3 linked regions of the Homo sapiens genome follow. The protein of the gene in region 3 purifies or fractionates together with the protein of the main gene of each other region. This does not show direct contact. Each region holds a gene or a part of one and is shown on either strand. Other genes may lie near its edges. The genes, in order: SATB1, PRRC2B and CCNO.

Region 1 (3,649 bases), on a different chromosome or scaffold from region 3:
TTTTGATCACAGTAAGTGTATTAGCAGCTGAAAATAATTGTTGGGAAACGGTAACCACACAACCTTGGTACGAGGCAAGAAGCTGTAATTGAGTTTTGGTAGTGTTCTTTTGATAGAATTAAATTTGGAGATATATGCTCTCTGTAAGTAGGGTAATGTAAGAAAGTCTTAAAAATGTGGCTCATCTTTTAAACATTAATTTCAAACTATTTTTATTTAACATTTGGTATTGTTAAACAGGTATAGTATTCAGGACATACACCTTCTACCACAATTTCTTTAATTAGGGTACTTTATATTTTATCAAAAATGTGCATATTAATAGATTGTAGTTTAGCCTTTGTCAAAAGACATGCAAGTATTTAGTATTTACATTAAAAGGATTGCCTCAGAAGAAACATTGAATTCATAAGCCCTCTTAAAAAGTCAAAAATATGCATAAAGAAGACTAGTATTGATATTTTCTGATATTTTAGATATGATTAATATTTTGGACCTCCATTGGTTTCCACACTATCATGCAAATTTCCAACTTGCTTTAACACAACAGTTCTATCAGCTGTATTAGAGGGAATACACATTTTAATTGCTCTTTTTGAAAATATCACCAGGCAGTTCAGAATGTCTCATTTATTGAGAATATTGTGACAATCAAAGACCTTAATATCAGCCAGATGCTAACAATTGGGAATAGGGCAGAATTTAATAATGGAATGTATGGGATTCTCATTTTTACTCAATCTTGAATCATCTGAGAATGTTTTCTATTCAAGCCAGTATTTTTAGATAAACACAGATATAGATATCGCTACTTTGAAAAAAATCACTTATTTTAAACTCAGAATTTCTTAGTACTAAATGCTAACCAATACACATTTTATACATAATATGTACAGACTTTGTTACCAAGCGCCACACAACTAGGACATACATATTAGTTACCTTGGTTTTCAAAGGTTGTCAACTCTGCATATTGTGTGGCAAGGAGATACTATCAACATTTTTTTTTGCATAATGTGCAAGTATTATATGGCCACAGAGTGTAATACAAATTAGTGGCAAAGTGCTGAGTGAAGGGAATCCATGACAGATTCAGATGCACAAGGTTGAATATTACCCGTAAACTACCTGACTCTGCTAAGGTCTTAACAGCACAAAACGCTATGTCATGCCCAGCTTTTAAAAGTCTCTGAAATACTTGGACACAATGAAGCTTGTTAAAGGAATTTTACCATAGCCACAGGTAACAAGAGGAGGATTGGCATGAGCGATAAATGACATTGGGGGAGCAATATGGAAGATCATCTGGGCAAGTCTTTTCTAAAATGTGCCATCTTCCCTGAAAACAATTTTGCTCACTCCATCCTATCAGTTTATTAACATGTGCTTGTGTGTGTGTGTGTGTGTGTGTGTGTGTATGTGTGGGCATTTAAAATATCAAATTATCAAAACCACGCTGACTTTTAAAAGTTAAAAAATCTAAGTGGGAATTTTGTTAGCATTGTTATGTTGATTACCAAACAAACATTCAAACATTCATCATTTCACTGAAAACACTATTTCAAAATAATTTAGGTTATTAGGAATTGGAAAGTTATTTGCAACCCAAACTTAGGGGATATAAGGAAGAGGAAGATAACTTCATGGCATTTGAGTTTCTATTTTATTTCCTATTTTTTAAATACATGAAACCTAGTTTCTATTTTCTTAATTCAAATTCCTTTGGCTCAAATTATTACTTTTCTGAACTCTAGTGAGCCAGAATGTTTGTTTTCTTACTAAATAAAAAGTGGCAACTTTTCAGTACAATTTTAAGTTTGCAACAAACCAGCTGCCTTCAGAGGAGCTTAGCTGTGCTTCAAAAGTAAATGGAACTTTAAAGCTTTATTGAAAGTTTTCAATGATTCCACTTCAGTTTCTAAAGTACAAGTTCAACACTAAAGCAGCCCAGTTGCCTACCAATAAGCTCATCAGGGCCTGAGAAGATGGTAGGCAGAAAGAGAAGGGGCAATTGCAAAATGGTATCTCAAGCAACCCAGATACCCCTACTAGCATCTAGGAAACAAAGTGAGGGAGCAAATAAAAGAAAAATCACCCCAAACTGTAATGCTGGCCTCAATCCTGTGACCATTAGCACACCTCATTTTATATTCTGGCATTTTACTATGTTTAATGTTGCAAGAATTTTGAAGATTGTGTTTAAATACCAGGTGTGTTATTCCTATTTTCTTCATGTAGCTCTTATAGTTATGAGATACACTTACGAGCTCAGTTATTAACTTATTCCACTTATAACTTGTGAAAAAAAAAAGCTAAGGGGTTTTTATACAGAAGGTCCATTTTTTCCCCTACTTATTTTGTTACTATTAATGGCCTTTAGAAATATTTATACATTAGCTTAAGGAAAAGCATTGCTATAAATGAAGTATTGTGAAATAAGCACAGATGAATCCATTCTAACAACATAACTGCTAGAGACTGGATTTGTTTTTGTCGGAGAGTCTTTTGACCATCCTATCTCTACTTATTAAGCAAAATGTTAACCAAACAGGTTATTTTCATTGTGAAATTTCATACCTATTTAAAAATGAGCATGTGTTTGTGATTTAAATTTACAGTGTTTCAAGTAACTTGTCAATTGCTCTTTTTAAAATCAGTGAAATAACAAGTTATTAACATGCACCTAAATGAGAGGGCCATCCTTTGACTCCTTTAGTTACTTCACATAAGCAGACAAACCCTACCATGTCATACGATACAAACAATTTTAATTGTGTAGTTACAGTCAATAACCACTCCTAGTCAGAACATTTCTGCATAAAGAAAATTGTGATACACTTATAAAAACAGCCAGCTGTAACAAAATAGCTGTTTTCATAGCCATAAACTCATAAAAAAGAAATACACCTTTATACAGAAATTTTATACAGATGTAGCTTTAAAATTGATTGTAAACCAAAGGAAGACACATTGCAAACATCAATTATTTTCACATTAATTGCATAATTTTCTAAGGTGATCTATTAGTTTTATTTACCTAAGCTTATTTGCATGATAGTAAAAATTGCATACAACAATAAGAGTGAAGCTTATAGTATGAATTGCTTGGATAACATAGAGCACTTTTTATAGGCAACTGTGTAAAGCACATTTTCTCTATTTAAAACTTTTAAGACACTTTGTTTTACTGCCCATCAAAATACATTTATAAATAGAAAAGAATCAGTATGGTAACAAGAGAAGCAATATTACATTTAACGGAAACTTCCAAAAAATTAATTACAACATGATGCTGCAGGATCTACAAATAAATAATGAGGACTAAATTGTGTTTCACATTTTCTTTTCCTTTTTTTAAAAAATCATGTAACAATGAGAATGAAAAAAAAGTACAGTGAACTTTTATTTCCAAAATAAAAACAAATTTGAATTACGGCAGTGCCATATAATACAAGGCATTTGTTGGCATATGTCATCTTTAAACTGCATTCCACAGTCTATAGTTCTTTTGTAACATACAATAGAGTAACAAACTCTTTTTTTTCTTTTTTTTTTTTAAATAAGGGGCAAGTTTCCAAAGATCAGTGTGGAGTGCTACAGAAATAATTATAGGAGAGGAAATCATAATCACAGAAGGTATAATGCTTGT
Region 2 (3,649 bases), on a different chromosome or scaffold from region 3:
TGCCTCAGCCTCCCGAATAGCTGGGACTATAGGTGCCCGCCACCACGCCCGGCTAATTTTTTGTTGTTGTTGTATTTTTAGGAGCGACGGGGTTTCACCATGTTAGCCAGGATGGTCTCGATCTCCTGACCTGGTGATCTGCCTGCCTCAGCCTCCCAAAGTGGTGGGATTACAGACGTGAGCCACCAGGCCTGGCCTTCTTTTTTTTTTAAACAATAGAGACAGGGTCTCACTCTGTTGCTGGTCTTGAACTCCTGATCTCAAGTGATCTTCAAGCCTTGGCCTCCCAAACTGCTGGGATTATAGGTGTGAGCCACCACTCCTGGCCAAAGTTGGTGGCTTCTACAGAGTCTTTGAAAGATCCCAGCGGGTATTACTAAAAATTTTTAAGCTCACAGACCACTTTTTGAATGGCCATGGATCCGGAGCCCAGAAAAATAGATATGCATGCAAAAGTTGACATGCTAGCAGGGGGTGGGGGCACATATCTGCAATCCCAGCTACTCAGGAGGCTGAGGCAGAAGGATTGCTTGAACCCAGGGGTTCAAGTCCAGCCTGGGCAACATAGTGAGACCCCATCTTTAAAAAAAAAAAAAATCCTTTCACATGCTATTTTAATATCCAAGGGCTCTCTGAAGCCATCCCTTGGACACAACCCCTGGTCTGAGAAACCAATGAGCCCCTGCAGAATTCTGGAGTAAAAGATCTGACAAAAGGGGATGATGACTCACACCTGAGAGTCACATCTGATTCACACCTGGCAGCTCAACCAATCTGGCACCTGGGCATTTTTGGACACCAATACTATGACACCTGTCACTCAGCCACTACCAAATGTAGTGTTATTGATGTTTTATCAAATGGTTGTGCTTCCTTTCCATCAAAGCTGGGCATGTTGAATGTTATTTTGTAGTTTGCAAGAACCAAAGTTTTCACCGAGCACATGAGGACAAGCTATGTGGAAACAGTGAAAGAATCAAGGCCCAGAACTCAGTGTCTCGGGTGCTTGTCCTATGACCCTGGAGTCCCTGAGTCAAGTCCCTTCCCTCTAGAAGCTTCAGCTGCTTTGCAGAAAAATGAGCTGGCACTAGGTGACCTCTCCAAGCTCCCCTCATGGGCCTGAGCTGTGAAATATCGAATGTCCATGTTTTTATTCATCTATGCATGCTCTGGGCTAACAGCGCAGGGCCCTGCCTCACCTAAACCTCAAGAAGAACCTATTCTATGAAAATAGTTTTCTATTTTATAAGGAAAAATTCCCAGAAAAATTACATTTGATATAGAATTAAAAAAAAAAAGTTTTCAGGGCAACAAATGTTCTAAGAAGTAACGTATACCGTCTTCTGGTCTCAGTTTGCCTTTCCAGAAGAGCATTCAGGGAGGGGTTTCCAGAGCCTTCCCCATGTTAAGAAAAGGGTGCACAGCACAGAAGAGAGCTCCTGAACTCTTGCGGCTGGTCTATCTGTCATTTGCTTCTCTTCCATAAGTTAGTGGGAGAAAACGACGACCAACAAAGAAGGCCATTCCCACTACTGTGTGATCTAAGCCCAAGGGGCCATCCTTTTCCAGATCACCAGACTAATGAATGCTCTGCTCTTCTACCAATTTTAGGCAAGGAAAATTGTGTATCCGTTTGGGGGTTGCAGCAGCAAATCACTCAGACGGCATTCAGCGACTAGCTCAGCAGCGGAACACAGCAAACAGGTACTCCATCTGTATTCCATCTATATTCGTAGCTCAAAAGCAGGATCCTCCCCAGAAGCAAACCCAGTGTGTGATGTGACCTTGGGTGCCACAGCTGGGGTCACACCCCCAACTCTCACCCTGGCTGCTGCTCTCCCAGATCTCAGTGCCCAGGCTGCTGCCAGGCACGGTCACGTCACCTTGCTCCAGACATAAGTTGTTCTGCTTTTTTGCAAATCGAGGAGGAATACGGGAGGAAAGGCCTCGACCTTTGACAGGCACCTGAGGGGAAGAAAGGATGCTGTAGTCTAGCCAAAGGCACCAAGACTGACAAATTCTCCCCAGGATAAGTATCCCAGGTACCAAAAATCACACCACCTGAAAATGCTCCAGAGATGTGTGGAACGCTCGTCTCCCAAAACCTCAAGCAGAACTGCGATGCCAAGCAAAGCACCCCCCAAGAAAGACCTGAAAGGCCAACGGACTGTAATCTGTGTGCAGGTCCAGCCCTGACTCCATTTTAGTATAGCGTTCACGATCCACTTGACTTGAGGGAGACAAATCTCATTCCACTCAGGAATGAGGAGTGGGGAGGAAGGAGAAGCTGGGAGGTGACGGAGGTCTGCATCTTGCCTTGGACAAGTTTCCACTGTTATCACCCTAGAGAAGTCACCCTCTTCAAGACTCGGTTTCTTCCACTGCATAACAGTGATGCCACCACCTATTCCTACATTGATAGAAGGGCCTTGGTAATAGCAGGAACGGGGAGACAATGTGTGCTTGCTAAATACTCCTTTCTTCCTCTCTGCCACCTTGAGCTTGACCGAGAACTCCCTTACCCTCTGGCTCTGGGTTTCCTGGGCATCTGCCAGCCTGCCCTCCAGCCCCATGCCCCCCCACCCTCCGCCCCTCACCTGCACGGCCTGCTCCTTCTTTCTTCTCTCTTCCTCCAGCAGGCGGCGCTGCTTCTTGGTCAGGACTTCGATGAAGCCTTCGCCCACCATAGAACCCACCTCACTCTCCTCCCCGGGGCTGGACCCGCAATTTTCAATGATGGCACCTGAACCAAGATTTCACGAGAAGGAACAGTCTTTCCACTCACCAGGAGACAAGAACAACCCAATTCAACAGGCGCCTGAGATCTAGCATCAGGCTCGACAGAAACCTGGACAGGACTTCCGCACTTTTCTCAGGCCGCCTCTGATCTAACACATTGTTACCCCAAACCAAAGAGGCCCAAGGGCACAACTGAGAGAACACGCAAAGAGCTTAAACCCCAGCTCTGCTCCTACAGCTGTGTGTGACCTCGGACACACCACCGAACGTCTCTGGGCCCCAGGCTTCCTCTCTTTAAAGCCCGGAAGCTGCAGGGTGTCACGGGGATTCAACGGGCTGTGAGCAACACTCGGTGGGAATCCTACCTACTCTGCTCACCTCTACAGCCCCAGAACCCAGCCCAGGGCCTGGCCGAGCTGTTCCGAAAGCTAAGGTACTCAGTGCAAGGGCAAACTCGGGAGGCCCGAGGACTGCATGGCCCCTGGTTCTGCCTGAGTTCTTTCCCCTGAAGATATGAGGATGACTTACTTCCATAGTTCAGGTCAAACTGTTTCATGGCCTCTCCCTGTTCACCTGCCCTCGGAGCAGCCAACTTGGCCTCCTTCTCTGCCTTTTTACTGGAGGCTTCGGGAAGGTCAGCACTGGCATGGGCTGCCCGCTCCAGGGCATAGGGGGAGTGGCCACTCCCACTGCTGCAGCCACTAAGACCTCCAGGCAAGGCCTCGTCTGGGGATCTGTAAGGGAAAGAGGATCTTGTTAACCAGAGCTGGGGAAGGAGGGAAAACACCGCACGTGCACACAGCCTGCACACAAGCCCGGCACCCTGATCTAGGCCCACTTCCTCTAGCTGACTCCTCGGGTGGGGAGGAGCGGCAGGCTGGCCACAGTGCATCCATGTCCGTGTGCAAAC
Region 3 (3,749 bases):
GGCCACCAGCAGCTGCAACTTGCCCATACAGTCCTCCAGCGCCGCCTCCGGGTGGTCTCCCAGTCGCAAGTCCACGGGCCGCGAGACCCGCAGCATGCGGTCCGCCAGCGCCAGGCAGCAGATCGCCAGGAGGGAAGGGGAGTAGCTGGTGAAGGCATAGTCGGCCAGACTCAGCTCTGCCACCCCCCGCGCCAGGGCTTGCGCTTCCAGAGCTTCGGAGGCCTCAGCCTGCCCCGCCTCCACGCGAGCGTGCGTGAAATGCTCCAGGAAGAAGCTAATGGTGGGCGCACCCAGGGTGAAGTGCAGCTTGTGCAGCACGATGCACTCGAGGTTGCAGAGCTGCTGCCGGGAGAAGGCGCCGCAGCAGAGGGCCAGAAGCTGCTTCACGCGCGGCGGGTGCACCTCCACCTGCAACACAGGGCGCACTCAACCCCGCTTTGCGGCTTCCCGGGCCCCAGGCCCACCCCAGTATGACGCCCGGACTTTCCCCATCCCTTCCAGAGAGACAGCCGGGGCTCTGCCTCTCCACTGCTTCCACGTAAGTGACCTAGAGCGTACTTCCAGCGCAGTTGATCTAACTACTGTCCAACTAAAAAAAAAAAGCTTGGGAAATTTTGAAGGCTTTTTCGGAGGCTAGACTAGAGGTGCCAAAAGAGCTATTTGGGACTGATTACAGCTATTAGTCTATTAGGCTATTTCTTTGGAAGCCGAGTGACAGGATTTTTCGTTTGTGGAGAAATTGTGAAGTTAAGGCTAAGGGATATATGCGTATGCAAATGTCTGATAAAATGAGTTCTGGGAACCCAGCACTGAATCGTGCGCGCTGGAAAGACGGGCGGCCAGGGAGTGGCGGGGGAGTTTGGCTGCGTCCCCAGATGCCGCGTGTACCTGTTTGATACCCCAGGTACCTGTTTGCAAGCGATGAGCAAGGAGGTGACCCCAAGCAGCTGGAAGCAGTCTGCAGCCACCGGCGTGGTGGTGAGGAAGCGGTCCAGAGTGTTCACCGTCAGGCACAGCGACTCGAAGGAGAGGCCGAATTGGCGGTGCACCGGGATCAGCCAGCTGAGCAGCTTACAGCGGGATTCCGCCGTCACCTGCCGGGAAGGAGGGGGGAGGCGGGCCCGCTGGGCTTAGGGTGGAGAGGGACTGTGGAAGGGAAGGAAGGGCCAAGAAGAATCGGGGAGCTTCCCAGGAGAGGGGCAAGAAGATTTCAGAAAGAGAAACGCAATGGAAACTGGGAAACGCGTGGGCCGTGCTGAGCCGGAACACCGGGATTGGGACCTGGCGCTGTGCAGAGAGCGTCGTACACGTTACCTCGCGTAATGGGCTCAGCAATTCAAAGGAAGGGGAGGGGTTCCATTTTGCAGATGAAGAAAGAAGCTCAGGGGTGTTAAATAACTTGCCCGAGTTCGGTAGGAGTCCAGACTCAACCCGGAAACGAATTCCTCTCTACCGTGCCCCAGTAGCCAGCTTGGGACGGGGCAAGTCCCTCAAGCCGTCTACGCCCCACTTTTCTCCATCTGTAAAATGAGGCCGGTGACGCCCCTCCACGGCCCCTTGTGCTTCGACTCGGGGCGGGACCTGGGCTGTCGCGGGCCCGGGCGCTCGGAGGGCCGAGCCGGCAGGAGAGGAGAGAGCCTGGGAGGAGAGGAAGAGCGGCGGCGTGGAGCTGGCTCTACCAGCACCTCACTTGTGGCTGCCGTGCCAGCGCCTCCCGCGGGTGGAAGTGGCTCTCCTGCGCCTTGCGGAAGGCGTAGCAGCTCTGGCCGTAGTCGCGGAAGGTCTGTAGATCTAGCTGCGCCACGGGCTGGGCCGGGCCGGGCAGGGGGCTACCACCCCGCGCCGCAGAGGGGCTCTCTGCGCCGTCTGAGCCGGAGCTGGGGGACTCGAACAGGTCGCAAATGCCGGAGTCTCCCGGGAGCGGGCACGGGTTCAGGGGATGCAGCGGCTGCTTCCTCCGGAGGCGCGGACGCCTGCTCTTCTTCACCGGGGCGCGAAGGTTCTGGTCGTTGTCCCGCCTCCCCGCTCGGGCGGCGGGGCTCGAGGGGCTGGTGGGACAGGGGGTCACCATGATGCGGCCGGGTGGCCGCTTTACTACCTTCAACGCCCGGGCTGCGGCGGGCAGCAAACGCGCACTCGAAAGTGCGAAGGAGGCCGGGCTCAGAGGCTGGCGCGGTCCTAAGTACCCGGCCGGCTCCTTCTCTCTACCACACCCCCGGCCTCTCACTGGCTGAGCCCAGAGCGGCACCGGAGCCGCGATTTTCCGGCTGGAGAACCACTCGCCTCAGGGCGCAGGCAGCGCGTCGCCTCCGCGGCCCGCCGGGGGGAGGGGGAGCTGCAGCGCGCGCCAGGCACCCGCCTTTCGCGCCTGCGTCCTGCGTTACCTGGGCAACCGGAGCCCGGGTCGCTGCGGGAGCCCGGGTCACTGCGGAGCCCGGGTCACTGCGGAGCCCGGTGCACGGAGTGGGAGTAGGGCTGCGGCGGGCGCAGCCAAGCGGCTCCGCTGCGCCGGTTAAAACATTCTCCCAGGGGGCATCTCTCTGTCCTTGGCCAGATGGTCTCGACACGTGCGGGCACCTCTAACCCAGGTCGGTAATTTTGTAAAGGTCTGATCCTGAGTTCCAAACGAAAGTCGGGCTAGAATTCTGTCGACACGGGAAAAGTTTTCTTCAGTGACCCAAACAAGCAATAGTGTTAATTCGGTTGCGTTTGTCGGTTTTGTTTCGGTGGGTACCGGAGTAGCCAGTGCCCTTCCTTCCGCCAGCCTCGGGGAGCAGAGCCTCAGAAGGGCCGTTTGTGCTGCGGAATAGATTGGAGCTCCACCAGCCAGCCACGCTTTCGCGCTCAAAACAAAACGGAAAACTGCCGGATCAACCTCAGTCGGCAAGCAAGTCTGCAGGCCGTGAAGACTTTCTCCCACACTTTTCACCCCAAGCCAAGCAAGCTGGGGCTACAGCGGTTTAAGAACATTGTTGGAAAGTTGCATTTCGAGTTTGATCGAATTGCTCACAGCCTGTTCCGTTTTAGGTCATTAGCTTCTGGCCTTCTGCCCCGCCGGCAGCCCAGTCCTTGGTTTTTCCCTGCTTCCTGCGTCCGCTCCTTCAGGGTGATAAACTCAGGGAAATTAAAGCTGGAATGGGGACGCCCAGGCCGACCGGGCGTGGCAGTTTCCTCAAGGCGCCTCGGGTTTAGTCCACAGACTCCCGTCCTGGTAGAAGCTGGAGCCCTTCTGTGGCCTGAGTGAATCTTCCTGAGGGTCTCTGACCCTATAGGAGAAGGGGCTGCAGGAGCACAAGTAGCCCATAATCAACCTCACAGGCACTTAGCAACGGCAGAAAGCTCAGGTACCCTCAACCCTGGTGTTTTCCAGAGGCGAGGCTACTGGGTGCCAAACCAAGAGCAGGTTCAGCCACCTAACCTCATTCCAGAAGAAAGCTGATAAATGTGTCTGCTCAAAGTACAAGTTTCTGTCTATGAAAATTTAGTAGATGGTGGGATGGTGTCTCCTAGAGATGCAGGTGAAAGAAAAGGAATGGATTTTGGGTTCTGACCACTGTTCCTCCTATTTCCCCATAACTCTGAGCAAGCTCTCTATTCTGCCCTAAATAATGTCATTTGGGCCGGGCGTGGTGGCTCACGACTGTAATCCCAGCACTTTGGAAGGCCAGGGCAGGTGGATCACATGAGGTCAGGAGTTTGAGACCAGCCTGACCAACATGGTGAAACCCCATCTCTACTAAAAATACAAA

The links.
Region 1: the proteins of CCNO (region 3) and SATB1 purify together in Homo sapiens (affinity purification with mass spectrometry; one large-scale study listed by BioGRID and IntAct). This does not show direct contact.
Region 2: the proteins of CCNO (region 3) and PRRC2B purify together in Homo sapiens (affinity purification with mass spectrometry; one large-scale study listed by BioGRID and IntAct). This does not show direct contact.

What each region holds. Positions count from the first base shown.
Region 1 is NC_000003.12:18,345,191-18,348,839, forward strand, and holds the end of SATB1 (DNA-binding protein SATB1), read right to left. Parts: 3' UTR 187-3,649; downstream 1-186. UniProt on the Homo sapiens protein: Crucial silencing factor contributing to the initiation of X inactivation mediated by Xist RNA that occurs during embryogenesis and in lymphoma.
Region 2 is NC_000009.12:131,477,568-131,481,216, reverse strand, and holds part of PRRC2B (protein PRRC2B), read right to left. Parts: intron 3,474-3,649; coding exon 3,268-3,473; intron 2,744-3,267; coding exon 2,598-2,743; intron 1,966-2,597; coding exon 1,824-1,965; intron 1-1,823.
Region 3 is NC_000005.10:55,231,453-55,235,201, forward strand, and holds the start of CCNO (cyclin-O), read right to left. Parts: upstream 2,157-3,749; 5' UTR 2,072-2,156; coding exon 1,691-2,071; exon of another isoform or gene 1,095-1,690; coding exon 909-1,094; intron 409-908; coding exon 1-408. UniProt on the Homo sapiens protein: Specifically required for generation of multiciliated cells, possibly by promoting a cell cycle state compatible with centriole amplification and maturation.